Linked DNA regions of Homo sapiens: region 2 is linked to region 1. The links come from fine-mapping of genetic effects on gene expression. A gene starts in region 1. The other region holds a variant in brackets. All regions are shown on one strand. Distances are from middle to middle. Region 1 holds the start of COBL (cordon-bleu WH2 repeat protein). Region 2 overlaps COBL (cordon-bleu WH2 repeat protein).

Region 1 (12,855 bases):
ACGGGAAGCATAGCTCTCAGTGTGCTCGCACTAGCAGGAAAATTATGACAGCTGGTGGCTTAAATAAGAGCTTCATGACAAAGTGGCAGGATAGCCAAACCTACACATTCTCCTTCGTTTGCCACTTGGCAGAGAGCGCAACATGCATGTGCTGACAAACGCTAGGTGCTGGGGCTGCTTCTGCATTGAATGCTTCATGGGAGGGCTGGGTGACAGGCATAGATTAAAGTGATGCATTTGTACAATGGCCAAGAATACAGGGTCTTAGGTAAGGTTGCCTGGTATGAATCTTTGCCCTGTGTAACATTGGGTGACTTAAGTTCCCTAATTCTTGATTTTTTTCACTTATAAAATGGGGACAAGGCTGATTTTTATTATATAATTATAATATATAATAAATATACATAAAATAAAAATATAATTATATTTCATTATATTTTTATTATAAAGTTGTATAATTTTAATATAATTTTTAAAAAGGGACAACAATAGTACCTACCTTTCAGATCATTTAAAATATAAAATGATTGGCCGGGCATGGTGGCTCATGCCTATAATCCCAGCACTTTGGGAGGCCAAGGCGGGTGGATGACCTGAGGTCAGGAGTTCAGGACTAGCTTGGCCAAACATGGTGAAACCCCATCTCTACTAAAAATACAAAAATAAGCTGGGCGCGGTGGTGCGCCTGTAATCCCAGCTACTCAGGAGGGTGAAGTGGGAGAATTGCTTGAACCTGGGAGGCTGAGGCTGCAGTGAGCTGAGATTGCGCCACTGCACTCCAGCCTGGTGACAGAGTGAGACCCCGTCTCAAAAAAAATTTTTTTGTATGTATATTTATATATATACACACAATGATTAGAGTTATTAATGAGTTTAGTATAGTGCATCACATCTAGGAAGTGGTCCTTAAAAATTAACTATTAATAGGCCTGGCACGGTGGCTCATGCCTGTAATCCCAGCATTTTGGGAGGCCGAGGTGGGTGGATCACCTGAGGTCAGGACTTCATGACCAGCCTGGCCAACATGGCAAAACCCCATCTCTACCAAAAATACAAAAATTAGCCAGGCGTGGTGGTGGATGCCTACAGCGCCAACTACTCAGGAAGCTGAGGCAGGAGAATCACTTGAGCCCAGGTGGCGGAGGTTGCAGTGAGCTGAGATTGTGCCACTGCACTCCAGTCTGGGCAACAGAGCGAGACTCTGTCTCAATTAAAAAAAAAAAAAAAGAAAAGAAAAGAAAAAAGAAAAAGCAGCCAGTCATAAAAGGCCACATATTGTGTGATTCCATTTATATGAAATGACCATAGTAGGTGAATCCATAGAGACATAAAGTAAATCGTGGTTTCAGGGAGTGGAAGGATGGGGAGTGGATGCTAATGGACACAGGGTTTATTTTGGGGGGATGCGAATGTACTGAAATTAGACAATGGTAATGGTTGCACAACTCTATGTACTAAAAACCACTGAATTGAGAGAGGTGAATTTGATGGTATGTGAATTATATATTGATAAAAAGAAAGCAATCAGGCAGGGTGCGGTGGCTCACATCTGTAATCCCAGCATTTTGGGAGGCCGAGGAGAGCGAATTATGAGGTCAGGAGTTGGAGACCAGCCTGGCCAACATGGTGAAAACACGTCTCTACTAAAAATACAAAAAATTAGCAGGGCATAGTGGCGGGCGCCTGTAGTCCCAGCTACTCCCTACTCGGGAGGCTGAGGCAGGAGAGTCGCTTGAACCCAGGAGGCAGAGGTTGCAGTGAGATGAGATTGCGCCACTGCACTCTGGCCTGGCGAAAGAGTGAGAATTGGTCTCAAAAAATAAAAAAAAGAAAAGAAAAAAAGAAAGCACTCTACATAAATATTTCTTTGAGTTACTATTGTTAGTTAATGACCCCATGTAAAATATGTCCTGTTTAATAATGTACCATCCTGAAAAGAAAGTTATTCAATTCTCGCCTTAATGCAAACTTGAGAATGTAATGGGGAGAGTGGAAGGCTGGACTTGTGGGGCCCCAAACCTTTTCTCAAGGGTCTCCTTGGCCTAAATTCAACAGCTCCTCACTACAGACCCAAGCTCTTTCGCTTGTCCACAGCCACAGCTCCATAAAATGCCGAGCAGTGTCTTCTGCTGGAGAATTTACATTTTTCCCGGGGGTTTTAGGAAACAGAGGGAAGGGTTTCTAGAGCTGAGGTTGACTCGAGTACTGCAGCACACTGGCTGGAGAAGAGGACTTTGGATGCATGACTCTCCCATTCCCAAAAACAGCACCCCCAGCCGCCCCCCCGCACCACCTTGGCCCAGCTCAGGTGACATGTACACCTGCCAGAGCGCAATGACGGGTGTTTGGCTCTTGTTTCTGCTTTAAGTTCTTTTCAAGGGGCCAGGACTCTAGCTGCATGGTTGTGCAGGGAACTATGCACCAAAAGCAAGTGAACAAGTCTGAATAGTAAGAGTTATGTGGATTGATTGCTTACCAGTGTCAGGTACCACCGCAAGAAATTTGCACACTTTATCCCGTGTAATCCTCCCCCTGGGCCTGGTGAGTAGGCACTATTCTTACCCCCGGAAGGCAGAACTACTGTTATGCCATCACTTGCTCACTTGTTGTAGTAAAGTCAGCTTTGAAAAGTTGCAACTGGCCAGGCACGGTGGCTCACGCTGTAATCCTAGCACTTTGGGAGGCTGAGGCGGGTGGATCACCTGAGGTCAGGAGTTCAAGACCAGCCTGGCCAACATGGCAAAACCCTGTCTCTACTAAAAATACAAAAAAAAATTAGCCTGTCATGGTGGTGAATGCCTGTAGTCCCAGCTACTCGGGAGGCTGAGACAGGAGAATTGTTTGAACCTGGTGGGTGGAGGTTGCAGTGAGCCGAGATCATGCCACTTCACTCCAGCCTGGGCGAAAGAGTGAGACACCATCTCAAAAACAAAACAAAACAAAACAAAAAAAAGTTGCATCCATAATGGTTTAGTTTCTAAATCTGTGTTAGACTGCATGGGCTGCCATAACAAAATATCACAGACTGCGCGGCTTAAACAACAAAAATTCATTTTCTCACAGTTCTAGAGGCTGGAAGTCCATGATCAAGGTGCCACTGCGGTTGGTGAAGAAAGAGAGAGAGCTCTGTTGTCTTTTCCTCTCCCAATAAAGACACCAGCCCTATAGGATCAGGGCCCCCCCACCCTTATGACCTCACTTAAACTTACTCACTTTTCTAAGTTTCTATCTGTAATTACCCTTACACTGGTTACAGTGACAGTTTCTACTCTAATTACAGTTATATTCAACTTATGAATTTTGAGGGGAAACAATTCGGTCCATAACACATTCAAAATAAAGATCCTTTTGGTATCTAAATTTGCATTAATCATATGGTATGCTTTATTTATTTAAAAGGTCCTTACAATTTTGTAAGATTCAGGCCCTTTGAAATCTGGATCCACCCCTGAATATTCTCATTTTAGAGAGGAGGACACTAAAGCCTAGAGAGAAGTAATTTGCTCTCGGCAATACCACCAGTGAGTGGAAGATCAGGCCCGAAGATGCTCACTGTGTTTGACCCTAAACCCTCGCTACTCAAAGCGTGCTCCCTGGGCCAGCAGTCTCCACTTCCCTGGGAGCTTGTTAGAAACATAGACTCTCAGGTCCCAGCCAGACTCACTGCATCACGAACTAAATCTTAATAACATCCCAAGAAGTATCCACGTTTACGAAGCCCTGCTTTAAACTGGACTGCTTCCATCTGTGTCTTTGATGTGCTTTCTTCCTTTCATTTTCCCTCCAGAAAGAGCAGCTGGTGTGACTGCAGGCACCCACCTCGAGTCATGGAGAGCTGAGTGTACGCCGATGGGGGCTGTTGAGACCCCAGGTGTGCCTGGGAGGAGAGTTAGGAGCAAAGAAGGGGGATGGGGTTAGACCAAGGAGAGAATGTCCTTCAAGTAGCCTTACACCCTGGTCTCAGGGTAGCTCCTACTGCTTGGGGCAAGAGCTGATGCCACTGTAGTCCAGAGCTATAGCCAAGGGCACCCATTACAGCCCATATCAGGACACAAGCATGGTGTCCTGGGACAAAGAGCAGCACTCAGCCATGCTCTGTGGATGAAGGGGCAAAGGTTCTGCTTTCACGCATGTGGGAAGGCAAATCATGGAGAGTTGCGGTCTTGCTGCATCTTCTGTAACTCCCTGTTCAGTGACTTTACAACACCCTAGCTTGAAATCTGCCAAGGTGCGTTTACACTACAAAAACTGGCAAATGCTACAAATAGGGGCTCTTTTTAAAAAAATTTAAAAATATCATTTGTAAGCATTTATCAGCACATCCCTGGATGTTTGCCACACTATAAAATATAGATGATTTAGTGATGGTCGACATCTGAAAAAGTGGCTGAGTGTGGTTGCTCATGCCTGTAATCTCAGCACTTTGGGAGGCTGAGGTGGGCAGATCACTTGAGGTCAGGAGTTTGAGATCAGCCTGGCCAACAGGGTGAAACCCCATCTCTAATAAAAATACAAAAAATTAGCCGGGCGTGGTGGCAGGCGCCTGTAATCCTGGCTACTTGAGAGGCTGAGGCAGGAGAATCGCTAGAACATGAGAGGTGGAGGTTGCAGTGAGCCGAGATTGCGCCATCGCACTCCAGCCTGGGCAACAGAACGACTCCCTCTCAAAAAAAAAAAAAAAAAAGTGACAGTTTTAATAAGGACATTTAAAAGCATGTGCAGGAAAGAGTCCATAAAGAACACCTTTCCCTTTGAGTTTCCCTAGCGTGTGATTGTGCCATTTGCTCTGCTGAAGTCAGTAAGCACAGGAAGGAGTGCGTTCTGCTCAGTGACAAGTGGTAGGCTGATCTTGGTGACATCCTCTACAAGGCCCCACTCAGCCCTTTGCTTTCAGCCCATCACCTATTCCTCTTTCTCACTGTCTGTCTGGAAGAGCTCAGCCCTGTCTGTTACTGATTTCCTTGCCTAGCCCTCCCTATGAGGTGGCCACATCCACACCGCAGACAAAGGCTGGCATACAGTAGATGCTCAGAAATATCTGTTGAACTATACAATTTTGGAAAACAACTCCCCACAGTTGCATCTCTTGGGGCCCTTATCAGTCAGGGAAGTGTGGGTGGCAATATGCACAGAATCTGATCAGGTCCTAGGCCCCGCCTGCCCCCCCAGGCTCTGTGCCCCTCCCCACAGTTGACACAAGTGATCGGCAGTCCTGGCCCATTTAGATTGCAGGCCCTGGGTCACAGCGTGAAGCTCCTCCCTCTGGCAGAAGTCTGACCTTTACTCTGTGTCTCATCCTGACAGCTCTAACCAGGCTTAACCCTCCACTTCATTTCTGGAAACTGGTCCCTGTTGGGTTTCTGAGTAGATGTCTGGGGGCCTTCCAAGGATCTGAGGTTGTCCAGGCCTAGGGTCACCTGGGCCTTTTTCCTAGAACAGCAAGTTGCATCTTGGCCTGGAGGTGGCACGTCACCTCCTTCTCATTGTTTTTCTGGATGTTGAGGAGCTCTCTTACTCTTCACCATCCACCTGCTTCGGGCTTCCTGTTGCCATCTGTGCTCAGCATCTGAGACACTGGGTCACTCCGGGCTTCTTTTGCTCCATGTCCCCACCATACTTCCTCTTGCTGCCTCTGCCAGGTGCTTGGAGTATGTGTCACCTGTGAGGTGGACTTCTCCTTAGGGATTTCAATGGGGTCTGGCTCACAGTGCCTAGTCTAGTTTTCAGCTCTGGCCCCTCCTGGGCAGCCCTTCCCATGGTGGTGTCCAGAGCAAGGAGGGGCTCCCCAGATTTTGGGAGAGACTCTCTAATACCCACACCCAAGGTGCAAGAAGAGATTCATTCATTCAGTGCACCCTTTGTTTACTGAGCACTGACTCCACCCTGCTAGGCACTGCCCTAGATGCTGGGGGTGATAAATCAGACAAAGGCCCAGCGCTTGCTAAGATCACATGCTAGGGAGGAGACCAATGGCAAACACATGAGCAAAATATATGCGGAATAGGATATGTTATTTATGTTTTTTATTCCATTTATATATAATGTATATACATATTTATAAGTTTACATAAATACAAATTTTATGCATTCATATAAACATGTCTATAAATATAACACATTACATGTAAACATTTCTTTATAAACTTACATTTAAATATAAACACACACATATATACACACATACACATATACACACACACATATATATATACACATACACACATACACACACACATACAGTGACAAATGCTCAGAAGAAAATTAGGACAAGGCAGCAGTCAGGAGCTTGAGTGAGAGCTGCTTTTATTTTGTGTTTTAAGACAGGATCTCACTCCATTGTCCAGCCTGCTCCCCACTCGCCGCCCCGCCCCGTAGCTGGGATTACAGGTGTGTGCCACCATGCTCCGCTAATTTTTTTATTTTGTAGAAAGTTCTCCCAGGTTGCACAGGCTGGTCTCCGACTCCTGAGCTCAACTGCTCCTCCGGCCTTGGCTTCCCTGAGTGCTGAGGTTACAGGTGTAAGCCACTGTGCTCCGCAGGGTGCTTTTAGACAGAGAGGCCAGGAAAGGCTCCTTGGGGAGACCACGGGATGAAAAGGAGGAGGAAGAGCACTGTGGAGCAGCATCCCAGCCAGAGGCCCTGAGCCGGGAAAGCGCTCCACTCATGGGAGGCTGGGCTGCAGGGAAGTGAGCCCCAGGGCCACCTGGGGACTTAGGAAACCTTCTAGGTGGGAGCAGGGAGCACCCAAGATCTGCCAGCCACGAGTAAGGACTCACATTTTGCATATAGACTGGTCTGCCCCCCCTTCAGTTAATGAGAAAGCAGGGGATCAGAGGGAGGAAGGCTGCGCAGGCCTCTGGATACCTCATCCAATGACAAGATCGCAAGGGGAGCGTCACCCCCAACGCTATCAGGCTCGCCCGATCTGGCCTCTTGTTGGTCTTTTATTCGAGTCATTGAAACCATATGAAACTGCCACTTTTATAGGTCAGCCCATCATACCAACCAAGATCTTAGAGAGTGGAGGTGAAGTTGGGCAGATAAGGGACCTCTGGCTGACTTGCTCTGGGCCCCGGCGTGGCCGGCAGGACCTGCATATCTGCCCGCCAGCCCGCACTGGAGTGGCAGGGTTGTGCCACAGTAGCGCCCAGTGAATCAGGTTGGCAAACTTAAGCGAGCATTCACCTAGAGCGAGTGAGTTGTTAGCAAAGCGAGGCCGCGCTCCAGCCCGCACTGTTTCTGATTCCGTGGGACCTGGTGGGCCCCAGAAATCTGCATTTCTAACAAGTTCCCAGGTGTTCCTGACGCTCCCGGTCGGGACTCCCACTTTGCGACCCTACGCACTAGACATTTGCTGCACGGATAAAGGTCAGAGAGCGGTGCCGGACACTCACTTCTCACCCTCCAACGTCAGTCCTCCCGGGCTGGTCCGCCCACCTCGCCCTCGCACGGCCTCCAGGCTCCAGGTGGTTCCCCTCCCCCAACTCCGCCAGGAGGCGCCGGCCCCGGGATCCCCCACTCCGCCCAGAGAGGGTCGCGCTCCCCCCAGGGGTGGAGGAGCACGGGGAGAAGCCCTCTGCCGCACCCGCGGGTGTCGGTGCAGGGCCCAGGTGCCGGAGGATTCCTTCCCCGGACGCTCGCCGCGGGCCGGGTCGGGACTCTGAGCAGGCGGGGCGGGGCGGGGCGGGGGCGGCGCTCCGGTGGGCGCGGCAGAGCAGCCGGGGCGGGGGCGCGGCGCACCTTGCTCCCGGCGCCCCCGCCCCGCGCCGCCGCCAGCCCCTCCCTGCGCTCCCGGCGCCCCCGCCCGCTAGAGACGATTCCAGCCCCTTCCGTCCGCCGCGCTCCGCCGCTGTCCTCCGCCGGCCCGCGTGGGAGGACGATGGGTCAGCGCGGAAAAAGTGAATGAGGGCGGCAGCGGTGGCGGCGGTAGCCAGCGCCTGACTCGGCGGGCCCGGAGCACCGCCCGCGTCCCGGCCCCCGGCACCATGGACGCGCCGCGCGCCTCGGCGGCCAAGCCCCCGACCGGGTAAGCGGCCCCGCGGTCGGGCGGGGTGGAGAGGGGGCTTCCCTGGGCTCGGACGCCCGCGTCCGCACCGCGCGCTCCCGGGCAGGGCGCCCTCTCTGCCGCCCCAGCGGGTGCTGGTGGTAGTGGTGGAGCAGGTGGTGCGGTGCTGGTGTTGGGTGCTGGTGTTGGGTGGTGGTGCGTGCTGTGTACTTTGGGCACCCGGGTCGTTGCCCAGGTAACCGTGTCGGGCCGGGGCCGGAGCGCACTTTTCGCGCGGGGTGGTTTGTATGCAGGCGTCCTTATGGGGGTCCCCGCCAGCACAGCCCCCACTCAGCTCCGAGCTTTCCTCAGGCCCCCCAAGTGTTTGCCGTAGGGGTGGAGCGGGGAGCGAGGGGACGCCCGGCCTTTGACTCCGGCCTCTTCCCTGCGGGCTTGCCCCTGGCCGGTTCCCATCAAGTCTTCCCTCTCCCGGCCTCGGCGGCAGCCCCAGGATCGGCTCTCCCGGCAGCGTGGAGGGGAGGGCTCCCCGGCTTCGCAGCCGCCCGGGCCCCGCGTTCTCGGAAGGTGTTCGGATTGCCCGGAGGGTTTCATGGCAGCAGCTCTCCCTCCCTGCCTTTATTCCAGGGTCTCCCCTGGCAGTGGAAGGGGCGTCCTAGTGGGGCCAGGCCTGAGGCGCAGACATCCGTAGCGGACCCGCGAGTCTGGCGGCCCATCCCTGTCTTCGCGATTCCGCTTTTGCCCAAACCTCTCCCGGTTTCTGTTTGCTATCCCCACACCTTGCGTGCAGGGATTACACGTCACATTCAGGATTTGACTCTCAGAAAGAGTAATTTCCCTCAAACAGGACGAGCAGCCCTGCTCATTATTCAGACCCCGAGCCAGGTGCGCCGTGCTCATCCCGGCCAGCGGTGCAGGCTGGGCCGCGGGGTAGCGCGCAGTCCCGGTGGACTTTGTAGTTTTCAGCGCGGCGCGCCGGGGACCTTCGAACTCGCTCGCTCGCCTGGAGCAAATGTGTATGAGTCTTGCAAATGGAATGAGGGTTGGGGTGAGCCCTGCACCTGCTTACTGAATGGGCCCACTTTCTGCTATGGCAACTGGACTTGAAGGAGGCAGCTTTGGGGACAACAAATCTTTTTTTCTGTTACAGTTGTGTCCCACTGACTCACCCTGCCCATGTGCCCATAGGCGGGCGTGTTGCCCAAGTGTGTAAAAGACTTTCAGTCGGGCTCTTTTTAAAATTTTAAAGTTTTCCTTTAATGCCAGGAAAAGGTGAGCCAGGTTAGCAAATCAAATAATCCTGAAGCTGAGGAATGTTAAAAAGAAGTTTTCTTTCTCTCTCTCTTTTTTTTTTTTTGCAGTGCACTTACTGGTGGTTATATAATTCTCTTTGAACAAACAAATTCCCCAGAAAGAAAGTAAATGTGGGAAATCCTTTTTCATGGTAATAGGCATCCCAAAATAACAGGGAAATGTGAAACAGAGGTATCTTTAAATCTGTGGCTTTCATAGCCTATTAAATGAGCCTATTTAAGGACACTGAATTATTTTGTCACTATCACCTTATAAATAAATATGAAGACAGAGAGAACATTTAAAAGGCCGGCAAAACTGTATCCAAAGAGTATCTGTAAGATCCTTGAAGGGAGTCTAATGATAGAAGTGAAAGGACTTACCCTAAGAGCGTGGCACTCTTTTCAGCCTGGTACTGTGTGGCAAGAGGTAGTCGAGGGCTGGCCTTCTCAGGGCTTCCCAGAGCTCTGATTGGCTTTCATATTTGAATTGCAAAGTAAAACTAAGGATTTTTGCTATGGAAAACATGAAATTATTCCTGATGCATTCAGTTCTTTCCCTCACTCATATCCAGTGTCTAATTTACTTGTCCGAACATCTTTGTCCAAGAAATGTAGACATATTATTTTTAACTTCTATTGTTCTCACTTTGTCATTTGTTAATACTTTCAGTGAAGAAGCATCAAGAAAATGTTAATATCCTTATATTTTTTCAGACAAGAATTACGTGTTTAATAAGCAATTTTGTGTTCAAATCTGAGGAGATAAATGGTGTTAGGTCTTCGAATATTTTATATAATTTAGGTGTATGCTTGCTAATTATAAAGGTTAGATATTGCTGTGAAATTTGTGGCTTTAGTACATTATTGGTGGCAGGCAGATTCTGTTGGCTCTTCACTGAGATTACTCCTCTGTTCCCTGAGATTAAGGCAGTGTTTGCAGTGTGCTTGAGGGAAATTTGTTTTCCATCTGATTCTGCAACCGTTTATTATAAAATCAAACTTTCAGTAAGCCTCTGTCTTCCCACATGATAACAAACTGATGTGGTGAAGCTGTTGCTGTTGCTGAAACTACCACTCCTCCTTGTGTTGTATAGAAACAAGCTAGACTGGGTGCAGTGAATTAACGAGATTTCACCCTGTGGCCTACAAACGCTCTTCTAGAAGATTACTGAAGGGAGATAGGTTGGTGAATGTAAACTCACTGACTCTGTGTCTGGCTAAATTATTAACAGGTAGTTATTAGTTATCTTTGTGAAAAACACAAATATACGTTTTTACTTGGATTGAAATTGTATGTTTTTTACTAGGAATTTCATTAAAACAGTGATGTATGACTTCCTTGACTCCTGGGGAAAGTGTTCTTTTAGGAAAGAGGCTGTGTGCAAAAACTAACAAGTCAGACTTGATGTGACTTTTAGGGAGTTTTAGAGCTCAGTTGAAGTATAAGAATTGACAGAATACTCAGAACACAAGTAAAGGCAAATTGCCTTTTGGTGAGGTTTTGAAGTATATTTAACTCTCTACTTTATCTGTTTACTTTGCGTTTGTCTGAATATTTATAGGAGCCATCCCAGTAGTCGGCTGTTACAGAACACAGGGCTAAATTTCCCATTGGACCCTCTGTTAATAAAGGACAGAAGAAGGCTTGCTGTTTGGCAGGACCATGCTTAATTTTTTTTTTCCTATGGAGGAAAGACATGTTTCTGTAGAATACAGTAATCTCCAATGACATGAAATGTCAAAACAGCTGGTGCATTTGATCAATGGCTGTATTCAAGCAGTTTGCTCATGTAAAAATCAGTGGAAGTTTTGCTAATCAGTTTCGTCAAAATGTGGACTTCATGTACACATAGCTGTTATTCATTTCTTTGCATAAATTTATATTTATTTAATCAAGTTATTAGAACCAAAAGAAATTTTAAAAAATTAATCGAAGTGGGTAACTTGAGCTACTCTAGTCCTGTCGGTGCCGCACATAGTATTAAGTGTAGAAGGCCTGTGACTCTTGGTAGTGACATGGGGCAGCCACAGTGACATTTTGTATGAAACCCTCATAAGCATGCAGATATTAAGAAAATATTAACTCTACACCATAATAGGAAGCTTAGGTTTCTAGGCCTTTGGCTTTTGGCTAACATGTTAGAGAAAGTGTTTACATTCTTTCAAATGAGAGCATGTATAATGAACTGTTACATAAAACTTTTCCCGTTAGATTTGAGCATTATTTTTAAAAGATATTACTTCTGAGCTACTCTTTATTTTGGCAATTCATTTAAGAAAGTAAAAGTTAAGAATTGCTTGATGTAATGTGGAGAGTAGGCCTAGGAATTTTAATGTTTTGTAATTAAAATATTTACTAATAAATTAGAAGAGTTGGACATTTCTGTGTTGCAATATCACATAGTCTCAGAGCATTTTTATTATTTCTCAGTGGTTCTATAAAGGGGATAGAACTGAAGTATGATTAAAATTTGTTACAAAGGTATTTGTTAAGTGTTGCATCTCTCCTGCCCCCAGGAACTTTTGCCTGCAGTCCCTCCTGTGTTTTCTCGTGACCTCCAGTGCACAGGTGGAGTGGATTATTATTGAGTGGAACCTTGACCCAGGCAGAGCGACAGCCCCCACGTATATGCAGGCCTGGATTCTGTGGACTTCTTAATTTGGGATCCAGGGAATGAAGTCATAATCTGTGTCCACGCAAGTGCTCCTGTAATTATTAAGAAAACAATGATTATAGGATGCATCTATACACCGTAATAAGTAGTTTAGGTTTCTAGGCCTTTTGTGCTTTGTTATAAATTTATGATTAAATTTAATTTTGTAATTGATCTGCAGTTTTGAAAAGTGAGCATAAATATTTGATACCAAAGTAGTATTAATATTTAGATCAAGGACATACAAATGTGAAATATGCTAACACTTGGTTCTGATTTAGACTTGAACTTTGTAAATACACTAAGAGTTCCTGTATTTATTTATTTTTTTGGTGGGGGGACATAATCTCACCATGTCACCCAGGCTGGAGTGCAATGGTGCGATCTCAGCTCACTGCAACCTCCACTTCCTCGGTTCAAGCGATTCTCCTGCCTCAGCCTCCGGAGTAGCTGGGATTTACAGGTGTGCACCACCACACCCAGCTAATTTTTGTATTTTTTTTTTTTTAATAGAGACGAGGTTTCACCATGTTGGCCAGGCTGGTCTTGAACTCCTAACCTTGTGATCCGCCCGCCTTGGCCTCCCAAAGTGCTGGGATTACAGGTGTGAGCCACTGCCCCCGGCTGAGGTCCTGTATTTATTATATGGTGTTTTCGTACATTCCTTCATTCTCTCCCCATCCACATTTAATTATGAAGGTTTTATGCGTTGGTTAATTTTAATTGTGTGGTTTTTTTTTTCAGTTACCTTATACTATAGCTGAAAAAAAGTTGGTATTTCATGACCCACTGAAAGCTTTTACATATCTTCATCTTTGTACTTTTTCTTTATTTAAAATACTGTAGTTATTGGTTTATATTACTACATAGAGATGTATTGATAATATGCCTTTTTACACTTTTA
Region 2 (12,855 bases), 180 kb after region 1:
TGTGACCCATACAAGGCTGAGGGACCTTTTTGTGAGCTAGGACAAGGAAGGGCTTAGTGGATGGCCATGGGCAGGTTCTCAGTGCGCTGGCTCCCAGCTGTTCTCTAGAGAGGGAAGGCCACACCCAGCCACATGCAAGTCCAGGGCTGACACAGCTTGGAGGTCACAGCTGCCCCAGGGCTGCGGAGTCCTGACTGGATTCTGAGAGGAAAGCCATTCCCCTCCCCTCTGCAGTGCCTTCTGCTGTCCCTATGCAGGGACCCTGGCCTGCAGAACACTTCCTGCAGGTTAATGAGCAACCCCCTGCTGGCTCCCCATCACCATGCCCAAGGTGGGGAGCTGAGAATGTCACACCCCTCCTGGGGCTGCCAGGGGATCAGCAGCCGTATCTGCTCTCCAACTTCCCAATGGATCACAGCCCTCCTATTAAGTAACTTTTGTAGGTCTTGGGTTTTCCTCCTGACTGCTCTGACCTGCTCATCTTGAGTTGGAAAGAAGTGAGGGAATATCCCGTATTCCTTGCGACTCCCCCTCTGCACCACCTGCCTTTATATGAGAAAATGCACAGCTCTTCATCAGGCCTTATTTCTAACTCTCCCAGCTTCCTAGAAATCTGGGCTATTGCCCCCCTCCCCCCGCCCCCACATTCCTGCACTAGCAGCTCCACAGCGGTCACCTTCCTCTGTCTCCTCTTTTTATTTCCAACAAGAGATAATATCTTAATGGGAGAACGGAGTGGGGCATGGCAGAAGCGCTACAGAATCTGAGTCCCACAGGTCATGCTAGAAAATAGGAAAGGACTGAGGTTAAATGACAAGATTGCCAAGAGAACCTCAAGGAAACTGCCGATCGCTTTGAAGGTGAACTTCATGGGTGACCTTGAGATGAGTATGCCTGGCAGCCCCTCCCTGCAGTCATGGGGATGTGCACTTGACCAGCCGTTATGCTTTGCAGCAATTCTAAAAGGAGGTGGCAAGGGAGCCCCAAGGAGGGGCTGATTAATTATTTGTTAATTAATAATAGAGTACCCAAATTTGTGAGTGATTTACTTAAACAGACAAAAGCCATTCAGTTTCACCTGGAAAACATGATTATTCCCTCTCTGATACACTTTTTGAAGAAGACAGAAGGATGGAGTTGCAGCTCTTGCACAGATGCTGCTCAGAGGCTGGCACCTTGCATGTGAAACCCATGCATATGAAATCATGGGGCTTGGGGCCAGTAAAAATATTGATGGCTGATGCTCTAAGGCACTGTTCCTTAAGAGAGAATAAAAATGAGCCACCTCCAGCCTGGGCAGTGTGCTGTGATGGTCAGGAGCAAAGGTGAGAGCGGTGGGGCCCACTCTTGATTCCCAAACACAGATGCCTAGTGGGAGTAAACAAACGGAAAGATGCCTCCACCTCATTAGTAGTGGGGGAAGTGCAGTTCAAAACCATAGTGAGACACCGCTTCACACACACGAAAGACGGCTGTTCAAACAAAAGGAAAACAAATGTTGGCCAGGACGTGGATAAACTGGAACCCTTGTTCATTGCTGGTGAGAATGTAAAATGGTACAGCCACTGTGGAAAGCACTTTGGCTGTTCCTCAGTAAGTTAAACAGAGGAATAACAGGCCAGGTGTGGCGGCTCACTCCTGTTATCCCAGCACTTTGGGAGGCCGAGGTGGGCAGATCACCTGAGGTCAGGAGTTTGACACCAGCCTAGCCAACATGGCGAAACCCCATCTCTACTAAAAGCACAAAAATTAGCTGGGCATGGTGGCGGGTACCTGTAATCCCAGCTACTCAGGAAGCGGAGGCAGGAGAAGCTTGAACCCGGGAGGTAGAGGTTGCAGTGAACTGAGTTCGTGCCACTGCACTCCAGCCTGGGCGACAGGAGTGACACTCCATCTCGGAAAAAAAAGAAAAAAAAAAGAAAAGGAATAACATATGAGCCACAATTCTCCTAGGAATATACCCAAAAGAATTAAAAACAGGCCGGGCATGGTGGCTCACACCTATGATCCCAGCACTTTGGGAGGCTGAGGCGGGCTGATCACTTGAGGTCAAGAGTTCAAGACCAGCCTGGCCAACATGGTGAAACCCTGTCTCTACTGAAAATACAAAAAATTAGTTGGGCGTGATGGTGGGCACCTATAATCCCAGCTACTCAGGAGGCTGAGGCAGGAGAATCGCTTGAACCTGGGAGGCAGAGGTTTCAGTAAGCTGAGATCGCACCACTGCACTCCAGCCTGGGCGACAAGAGCAAGACTCTGTCTAGAAAAAAAGAATTAAAAACAAGTGAATAGTACACAAATGCTTGTAGCAGCTCTGTTCACAGTAGCCAAAAAGTAGAAACAATTCTAATGCCCATGAACAGATGAGTGGATAAGAATGTGGTATATACATCAAACATTCGGCCTTAACAAGGAATGAAATACTGATGCATGCTGCAATGTGAGCAAACCTTCAAAACATTATGCTAAGTGAAAGCCAAACACAAAGATCATATATTGTTTGATTTCATTTATATGAAACATATGGAACAGGTAAATCCATAGAGTCTAAAAGCAAACTGGGGTTTGTCCAGGACTGGGGTGGGGAAAGGGGATTGGGGAGTGTCTGCTTAATGGGTACAAGGTCTCCTTTTGGGATGATGAAAACATTCTGAAACTAGATAGTGGTGATGTCTGGATGATAGTGTCAATGTACTTAACACCACGGATTGTATGCTTTAAAATGGCTAACACGGTTAATTTTATGTTATTACACACATTTTGTTATCATAATTTAAAAAAGGAAAACAGCCAATGCTTGATCTGGCTCCGGGGTTTCGGATATGCTTGGATTGGTGTGCAGCCTGGGTGTGTGCATCATTAAAGCTCCAGGGAGTTCCGTGCAGCTGAGTTTTCGAACCTCTGCCCCAGAGCCAGCCTGTCTGGCTCCACCACTTCCTAGTGTGTGACCTTGGGCAACCAGTAACTCGCTGTACCTGAGTTTCCTTAGCTGTGAAATGAGGACCATGTAATTACCTTCCTATAGAGCTGGTATGAGGGTCAAGTGGGTTCATATATGTAAAATACATGTCTGCACACGAATCTATCACCATTTTCTGAGCCTGGAGTTTAGATTTCCTCCCTAACCGGCTTAGTTGTTCTCTTTGCACCTGGCAGGTGTCAGCTCACATGCCGCCCAGGTGGAGAGACCACACTTCTGCTAGCCTGGGACAGTCCCAGCAATGCTGATGTCACTGCATTCTTTCCCATTAGGCTTACTTTAGATCACTTGAAAAATAGTTCTATTTTGGATAATAAATTATGTGGCCACCCTCTTAACCCTCTTCTATAGCATGCTACATATAGGTAGTGATGAATGGTAAGTCCCTTAGAAGATTAGAGAGGGCAACATTATAAACAGTGCATCAGAGAATTAGTCTGCTCCCCCAGAAGAGAGGCTCTTGAACCACACAGCTACTTTTCCTGCTTCTTAAAAAATAAATCCTACTTTTCTTGAAAAGAAGTTTTGCCAAGGAAGAAATCTGATCAGCTTTTTTCCTCCACTCATGACTCAGTTACCTGGAGTTACAGGGAAGCCTTCCTGATTTGGTACACGTTTTAGAAACAATCATATTTATTGCACAGGAATTGTTCCCTTTTTTGTTTTGTTTCTGTGTCCTGTAGTGGTGCCCTTTCAGTCGGCACCCAGACCTGCCCCATGCACATCTACAGCCGAGTTTCTCATTCCTTTCCTGATCTAGTCCATGGTATTATTAAAATGCTCATTAACAGAATGCCCACTTAACACGAAATACTTGGTTTCGTTTGGAGAAATCCATTTATCTGGAGGAGGGCTACACATAAAGTATCACTCTTGATGAAGTATAGAAAACTGAACTTATAAGTCAGTTATTCAAAATGTGTCACCACATAAATTATGGCAAATTTTACATGTGCATTTGAGAGGGAAAAACCTTCCCTTTTTCATTAGGATTGTATTATTTTTATAAGTTGGAACCTCATTTTTCCCTGAAACTGTATCTAATTGAGTTTGCCTCAGCTGAAATCTCGCATCTGACCGCAAGCAGTCACACAGACACACACACACGCATGCAGATTGAGGCATGCCCTGTGAACATCCTTTCCCTGATGCTCTTCTCTGCTGCTGCCAAGCCCCCACTCCTTGCTTTTTAATTCTGGTCAGTCACTATGCTGCACATTATGACTTAACTTTTCATAACATTCTCTTGCCTTATCCTTCCCCTTTGATGCCCTTCCTCTTACTTTTCCTCCTCCACCTGCCCTGATGAAGTTTGCACCATGCACTGCATCTCTCCCTCCCCCTGGCTTGGCTGGAAATGAGCTTCTGCGGTCTGCTGTGGCCACTGTCACAGGATCCTGCCTGCCTGAGGACACACATCGCATGTCATCCATCTTTGAAGCACCCCGGGGCTCATTTCCTTTTAATTTACAAGCTTTTCAGAAACTTCTGCCTTTCTGAAATTGTCATTGTTAAGCATTCTAAACATTCAAATGCCTGGCAGATGGTCCTGCTTCATAAGACTGAAATACTGTCTGATAGCTCACCTTCAATCATGTCTTCCAGTTATGTTAAGGGAAAATAAAATACCAGCTCGGGCGCTGTAGCTCATGCCTGCAATCCCAGCACTTTGGGAGGCCAAGGCGGGTGGATCACTTGAGTTCAGCAGTTCGAGACCAGCCTTTCCAAGATGGCAAAACCCTGTCTCTAGTAAAAATACAAAAATTAGCCGGGCGTGGTGGCACGCTCCTGTAATCCCAGTTACTCAGGAGGCTGAGGCAGGAGAATCCCTTGAACCAGGGAGGCAGAGGTTGCAGTGAGCCCAGACCACACCATTGCACTCCGGCCTGGGTGACAGATTCTGTCTCAAAAAAAAAAAAAAAAAAAAAAAATCAAATACCAGTTGGATACTCTTTGTTTGCTCATTTTAAGAAAATGTCTTGCCAGGCGAGAAACCATCAGAGAGCTTGTGTGACACGGTATTTTGTTGGCTGAAGTATGCATCCAGACCAAATAGCTTCTGCCACTTTTCTTCTTCTAAATACTTAAAATGCCATCCCCCAGGCATTCCATGGGGTACTTGGCCAAAAAAGAGCGATCATTTCCTACTCGCCTCACCCTCTAGAAATGAGATTCCTAAGTTCCATTGTCCTGCCCATTCATGGTGATCAGTTCACATGAAGCTGGCATGCTTCATGGTTCTTTCTTTGCCGCTTCCTCGGAATCAGTGCAGGATTTCCAGGATGCCAGAAGACAGCTCAGGATTTGGCTCAGGGATTCAGCTTAAGGAGTGTCTGTCAGGAAGGCTGTGCCCTGAGGATAAGGAAATGCAAAGACAAAGACAGAGAACACCCTCTTGGGAAGGAAAGTTGGCCTTGCCCTTACCCAAGACTGTGCCAGCCACCACAGATGAGAAGCAGCATTCTCCCCATTCTCACCTCACCAGGAGCTTTGACAGACCTGAGCTGCTCTGCCCAACAGACCCCAGGGAGTGCCCGTTCGCCTCATCTGGTTTATGTCACATTGTTCTGCCTTGAGTCCTGTCAACACCTGTATCTGAAGAAAAGCCAGTGTGGATAACAGGTTCTGGAATCTTCCCTCCCACTCGATTCTTTAACAAAGCCTTAAAAAAAAAAAAAAAAGTTGTAAAGCCTTTCAAAAGGGGGCAGCATCGTCTAAGGAGAGGAGGCTGCAGGCAGCAACAGGAACATATTTCTAGTTTCATCTTTCTAGTTTATTCTATCACTAGGGAGCTGAGCCATCCTGAGTAGCTCTGTCTGGGCCTCAGTTTTTCTAATTTATTATATCACTAGGGCACAGAGCCATCTTGAGTAGCTCTGTCTGGGCCTCAGTTTTTCTCACCATCAAAACAGCAAACATCATGTCCTTCTAAGAGGATCTGATCCCATTTAGAAGAGCCTCTGCTGAGAGGATTGTTGATTGCCAGCTCAGAGTATACTTATTGTAACCAAAACATATCCCTTAACCTTGAAACAGAAATCAACATCTGAATTCCTCA[A/G]TAGCCATGTCAAAAGATCTACTCAGGCTTTTAGTAGACTTGATTAAATGAGTCAAGGTATAATTGTATTTGTAGGATGGACACCTTTGAGAAATGGAAACAAAATGACCATTTCTCTTTTTTTTTTTTTAAATCGATTTAAACAGAAAGATTTCAGGTACAGCATCTCCTGTTTGTCCCTGGAAGTGTATTGTGCAGTACAGTAAGGGGTTGAAGTACACCAAGCCCCTTTTTGTTGTATGAACAGATTGATCCATCTTAGGCTGTGTGATGGGTGTGCTCGTGAGGCAGCTCTGTGAGGATATCTTCAAGAATTTTGGCAAAGGGAAATGGACCATGGCAGTCTGTGCTGACTCGAAATAGGGATGTTTACGTTGAACATGCTCAGCTTCTTGTCTGGTACTGATCTCTGATCAATTATAAGTCAATGAGCGAGGGAGACAACGTGTTCTCTGCGGTACCTGTGAGCCCTGAAAGTATTCCAGGAACACCCTGCACTCTCAGTGCCCTATCAGGTTCTATGGGGCACTTGTGCTGTCAGGGCCGTGCCCCTGCTGCCTGGTGCTAGATCTGCATAGCTCCTTGTCCCTGTCAGTGGAGTAGTGTTTTGTCGTCACAATGAAAGTCAAATAAAAGGAAAATAAGCTTTGCTGAGATGAGTACATTTTAAACAGAAGCAATCAAATATGTACATATATATATACGCACACACACACCCATGCATACATAAATGTTTGTGTGTGTGTAAATTTAAAATTAGGACCCATGTCAAAAGCACTTGTGGCAGATGATACTGGTTTTATTTTGAGCTGGCACTCAGATCTGGAAACGGTTAGCTTCCTCTTCTTCCTGTCTTCTCTCCCCAGATGCGCGTATGAGAGTCAAATCACTGATGTTTTACACTGAATGTAAGGAGTTAATTGGCTATCAGTGGTGTGGTGACATGGACACAGAGAGTTTTGCATTGTCTTTGGTGGGCGCCATTGAATTCGACTATCCATTGAATGACAGCAGCTGGCCTGGAGGAAGTTTAAATCCCACCAACCTAAGTCCCATGAAGCCTGAGATAGAAGGTTCTGTTTGCTTAGTTTTCTTTTCTGTTATTCATTGCTTTTTCTTAATGATTTATCTGGTTGCACTTGCAACTCCTGAGAAAATTTGATAAGATCATGACTGCCAACATCTGTGGATTTTGGTGCCAACCTTTGGTGAGAGCTATGACTCACTTCCCTACAAAAAAAGAACTTGATATTAAAAACATGTATATATTGACAAGCTTGGACAGGAAATCAAACCTCTCTTGCAGGCAAGCAGTGGCCTGTCCCTCATGAACTTTGCCACTTTGTAGCAGGAGACAACCAAGGAAACTGGGATAATAGGGGGGGCCAAGCTGTTTTGACTCCAGACTGCATGCATTAAGCTCTTGGTTTTCCCTTTGACTTCGTATTGATATGAGTCAGGACTTTAAAGGACTCAATACTTCACAATGTTTTCCTCCCACATTATTCTGTGGATTGCTTTCTAAATTCTGCGCACAAATTCCAAAAGTAGGGAAAGAAGATAGAAATGAAGCACAAGTATTCGCTGGACAACATAAAGTTTTTGGCTTCCCATGGGTTGAAGGTTGAGAAACACTGTTGAGTAGCAGAACTGAGAAGAGGGTCTGGTGGCTCAGGACCACTGGACCCTGCAATCGACCTCCTTGGGAGCATTGTGGGAGGTGGGAAGAGATATTTGTTAATTGTGTAGAGCAAATTAGGGGAGAAAAATCATCTGTTCTATTGAAATTCAGTTAAGTTCCAGAGTCACAGATGAAGGCCTCATGAGGAGCCCATTGTCTGAAGATAATCAATATCAGAACTTCTAGGAGGACTGGGATGGGGTGCACTTCCGCCTTCTGACTTTCTGCCATTCAAGGTCATCTCAGTGTGGCCCTCATGAGGTCATGGCCACCCAAAATAGGTATCAGAGAAGAAGGAAACCACATATATTAGACACTTCTAATGTGCTTTATCTAAATTACTTCATTTAATGCTTGTAACAACTTTGAAGGAAATGGATTTTTCCCCATTTTAAAGATGGGGATGTACCTACTTTATGGGGTCTATTCCCATTCCTTACCTTAAAAAATAGATAATGCAAAATGTCCAGGATGCTTATGACAGCAAAAAAAATTATGAATTAAAACCTGAAATCAATATGAAATGGAAGGGGGCTGTAAAGTTCTTTTAAGGGAGTATTCTGCACAGACCTTCCTTAAGTGCTCAGGGCACTTACAGGACAGAGGTGGATTCACAGCAGTATTGATTGATCAGTCAGGCAGGCATAGTTGTGGTGAGGACCGAGGACAAGAGGAACTGGGAGTTCCATGTCTAGACAGGGTGGAATGAAGACAAGCAATTAGATATGTGGTTGTGGAATGCACTGCCATGGACATCGTGTTTCTGGGACGTCAGATGGGGCATGTGTGCTTTAGAGATAGCAGGTGGCATGGGTACAGGTGTGTAGTTCTTTGACTACCACAGCTTTAAGCATCCTCCAAAATGTGTGTTCACATGTGTGAGTGCACGTTTGTGAGTGTGTGCACATGTGCGTGAGTGTGTGCATGTGCAGTCACTGTCAGCAGACGTTATGGATGAGGAAACAGAACAGTGTGGAAGGTCCCAGTGTCCATGCTCTGGCCATATGCTAAGTGACTACTGATGAGGAAAGATGGGGTTTGCATTCCCCCTGGATCTGGGGGTGTTTGTACAAACCAGCCATCCAGCAAAACACCTTTCCAGCTCCAGAACTGTGAATAGCAAAATCCCTTCTCTGGTTTGCTTCCTGTGCTTCATTTAGTCTTCTAGATCCTGCAGGGTTAAATAAATCTTGAGTTGCATCTCCCTGAGTCCTCCCTGTTGCCATGGAGGTGGATGTAAGGCAGAGTTTATTTTGCATGGCTTATTTGCTTAGTAATGACTATGATGGCTGCAGAACTCAAGGACTCAAGGGAACAATTTACATTTTTCTGTAGGAGCCTAAATAGGCATTGACGAGTGTTCTGGGTGTTAGTTTCTTTTCTGTTATATCACCGTCACCTGTTTCCTATGGGAACTCTGCACCTGATAGCCAAAGCATCGGGCATCGTTGATATTCAGTGTCTGCAGGGAAGCACTAATGGCGTAAAAAGCAGCCTTCATGGAGTGCTTTGTCCTTTGGCTTTAATATTTAAGCACAAGAAAATCTGTGACTCAATTTTTTTTCAGGAAAACAAATGATAGTATAACTGGTAGAGCAACAGCATTTGTGTCTGAGCACAAATAATACTGGGCTATTGTTTAATATGATGGATTTCCTTTATATCTTCATTTTAAATATGGAGAACTAGTTGTTCAAATGAAATCTTACCCACAAGCTTATTATGTAAAATATGAAAGCATAGTGACCCAGAGGGTCATCTGTCTATTCATTGTCTCAGGAAGGTTGACTGAAGGGCCCTCCACCTACCAGGAACTGTTTGGAGCTGGGATTACATACAGTTCTCAGTAAAAATCAGTGATAATTACTGTCTTCATTGAGTTCACATCTTAATGGGAGACAAAGATACAAACAAGCAAGTGTAATAATCATAATAGCTAACACATATTGGGTACTTACTTTGTGCCAAGAACTCCTTTTTTTTTTTTTAAAGAAGTGGGATCTCACTCTGTCTTCCAATGACACCAGCATGGCTCACTACAGCCTCAAACTCAGGCTCAAGAGATCCTCCCACCTTAGCATCCCAAGTAGCTAGCACTAAAGGTGAGCATGACCACACCCAGCCAATGTGCCAAGAACTCTTTCAAGCTCTTTTACATCCAGTCACTCATTTGATTCACATGATAGCTTTGTAATGCAGGAACTATTATTTACCCCAGTTTTACAGGAGATAAACTGGGGTAGGGAGAAATTAAAAATTTGCCCAAGGTTTGTATCTTACTCCTGACACCAAAAAATACCTCGTCTAAGGTCAAAAGAAGGAATCAAACCCAGGTAGTGTCTCCAAGGTCTGTGGGCTTAACCCCTATACTGCATTGGCTCTCAGTGTTGACTGTGTCCATGGTAACAGGTGGAAGATCTGCCAGGGCTAGGAGAGAAGAGGCACCAGGACACAGCATGGTACCATCTTGTTTTCAGTTTGAAGTTAGAGTGCTGGTTCTGCTGGTTCCCCGAATGCTTTCTGCACTAGCACTTACATGATTCTATTAAGCAGACCTTAGGGAGAAAAAAGATTCAAAAAGTTTGTGTGTCCTGTAGCCTGCTCCGCCTGGTGTAGAAATTGTCCCTTGAGAGCAATTAGTGTGTTGGCTTGTATTTCTTTCAGCTTATTGGGTATCTGTCACTAAGTACGGTACTGATGGTCCTAGACAGTCTTCACAGCATACTGCTTATACCACATTGTCAGTTTTCATAACTTCTGAAAATTAGAAGAAACATAAGCCCCCTCCTGGCAACAAGTGGAGTACTTCCCAAGATGACCAAGACTGTTGGTGTCTTCCTCATGAAGATGTATTTCTTGATCAGTTCCTTCCTCTTTTTAGTGTCTAAGAGCTCATTCTGACAATGGGTTAAAGTTTTAAGGAGGCCAGTTCACACCTGCAGGTTGGTCAAGAAGTTTAAATGATTCTAGCTGCTAAGTGTTCTCTTAATGGCTTAAAGAGTCTGCCATGGCCTTCATGATTAAGAAAGGGAGCCTCACAGCATGAGTCTGTCCTGCAGCATCTTCTCCAGTTTTCCCTGGAAAGCTACAGGCAGGGCTTGCTCAGACCATTCAAGCTGACTGTAGAAACAGCTGCCGTTCAAGCTCAGGTGGACGGATTGGAACTTTGTCTTCATGTGAGCATTCATACGGGGAGAAGTCATCTCATACTGATTTGGTTTTCTGTTTGTCTCTTCCCCAACAGGGCTGTTTAACGACCCCCAACTCCCCATCCATGCACTCACGTTCTCTTACGCTGGGTCCATCCCTCTCGCTGGGCAGCATCTCAGGGGTGTCCGTGAAGTCGGAGATGAAGAAGCGCCGAGCCCCTCCTCCTCCAGGTTCAGGGCCACCTGTGCAAGACAAGGCATCGGAAAAGGTAGGGCAGTGGGCTGTTCTCACAACCAAAGCATCTTTTCAGTGACACAGTTGATTGTTCCAAAGCTCCCTGGGAACACAGTAATCCTTCATGTTTGTGGCTGTAGCGACTGGAGTGTTGGGGGCAAGTATTTAAGCTTTATTTAAAAGTAAAGGCAAGATGCCAGGAAGGGCTCATGATTTTAACTCTGAGAAGCTGAGTTCCCCAAGGCAGTCAGGATACACCCAGCAGCCCAGTCCTGCTCCCCACATACCCTAATATGTCAGATCCACCATGCAGCTGTAAAGATAAGGATGCAGTCTTCTTCCCTGGACTGAGATTTTTCTGACTGACTGCATCCCAGCTTCCTGTGGAGGCAGCATGCCACAAATGCCAACATTTACAGAAAGCAAATTCAGAGTCCATTCATTCTGTGGCAGAACTTTATTTCCTAACTCTTGCCGCATGTGTCATGTGGCCTAGCCCAGTTGCATAGTTTGAGAGTGTCACGCCCCTGCTAGTCTTTAGGTTCAAAGCCCCTTTTTGCTCATTTGCTCTCAAAATACCCTAAAAACTAAGTCTGTGCCTCCTGAATGTGAGGCTTGGTCCCTGGATCTTGATAAAAAGTTATAGCAGCAGATACCAAATGGCGGGGTCCTGACATGTCATGTAATTTCCTTATCAGCCTGCTTGTCGTTCTGTCCAGGTATGTCCGTCTGTCCATCTATTTTTGCAAGTCGGTCCTCTGGTCATCCATCTCTGTTCCTTCATGGTTGTTCTTTATCCCTGGGTCTCAGAGACCATCCTGCTTCCATCCTTAGTCCTTCATATCCCTAAAAATCTATCTGAAAAGCCTGTAGTGGAACACATTTTCAAAGAAAATATTTTTATTTTTGCATCTCTTAAATATTTTCTAGGCCGGGTGCAGTAGCTCACGCCTGTAATCCCGGCGCTTTGGGAGGCCAAGGCAGGAGGATCACCTGAGGTCAGGAGTTCAAGACCAACCATGGCCAACATGGTGAAATCCCGTCTCTACTAAAAATACAAAATTAGCCAGGCATGGTGGTGCACGCCTATTGTCCCAGCTACTCAGAAGGCTGAGGCAGGAGAATTGCTTGAACCCAGGAGGCAGAGGTTGCAGTGAGCCAAGATCACGCCACTGCACTCTAGCCTGGGTGACAAGAGAGAAACTCTGTCTCAAAAATAAAAAATAAAAAAAAAAGGAATGTATACATATATCCTAATGTAACTGACTTATTTTGAGTTCTTCATGATATATTAGCTGTGTTTTCATAAAAATAAATTTAGGCACAAATGGTACCTTTTTGTTGTATGCATCCATGATAAGATGATGCAAATGGAAAACACAAAGCTATTTCTTCTGATTTTCTGCAGTGTGTCTCATTAATTTGCTTGGATGTAGATTCTGAACTTTTTTATAATATGCAGACCATATTGATAGCATTGGCCTTTCCCAGCTACATGCCCCTGGGAATATCTTTTTGCTTTGGCTTAGGATAGGTTTCTTTAGTTAGTAATAAAAAGTATGACTTCCAGGATCAATATTATGTCAGCTTTTTTCTTTTAATAAGAATTGTATTTTGTTAATGCGATAAAATGTAGATGGTGAACTGTACCAGCATTTTAAAAATTTCTTCCACCCAGAAGAGATGTTGTATTTTTCTGCATTTAATGTGCTTACCCACAGTGGATAAAGCCTGCTTGAGTGGGAAAATGTG

What was found. PIP is the estimated chance that this variant, and not a neighbour inherited with it, causes the effect.
Region 2: its variant is fine-mapped to the expression of COBL in blood mononuclear cells (TOPMed, PIP above 0.99).

The regions. Positions count from the first base shown.
Region 1 is chr7:51,311,764-51,324,618 of GRCh38, reverse strand. It overlaps COBL (cordon-bleu WH2 repeat protein), which reads left to right and starts at 7,810. Exons shown (of 13, transcript NM_015198.5): 1 at 7,810-8,026. The coding sequence starts at 7,986. It overlaps LOC124901633 (a long non-coding RNA gene), which reads right to left and starts at 7,635. Exons shown (of 2, transcript XR_007060324.1): 1 at 7,395-7,635; 2 at 6,287-6,572. RefSeq lists enhancers at 6,366-6,958, 6,959-7,552.
Region 2 is chr7:51,134,440-51,147,294 of GRCh38, reverse strand. COBL (cordon-bleu WH2 repeat protein) reads left to right here. Exons shown (of 13, transcript NM_015198.5): 6 at 10,964-11,137. Among named protein-coding and RNA genes, the nearest start is that of COBL, 180 kb to the left of the region's middle. The variant A/G (reference allele first, on the strand shown) is at 6,039.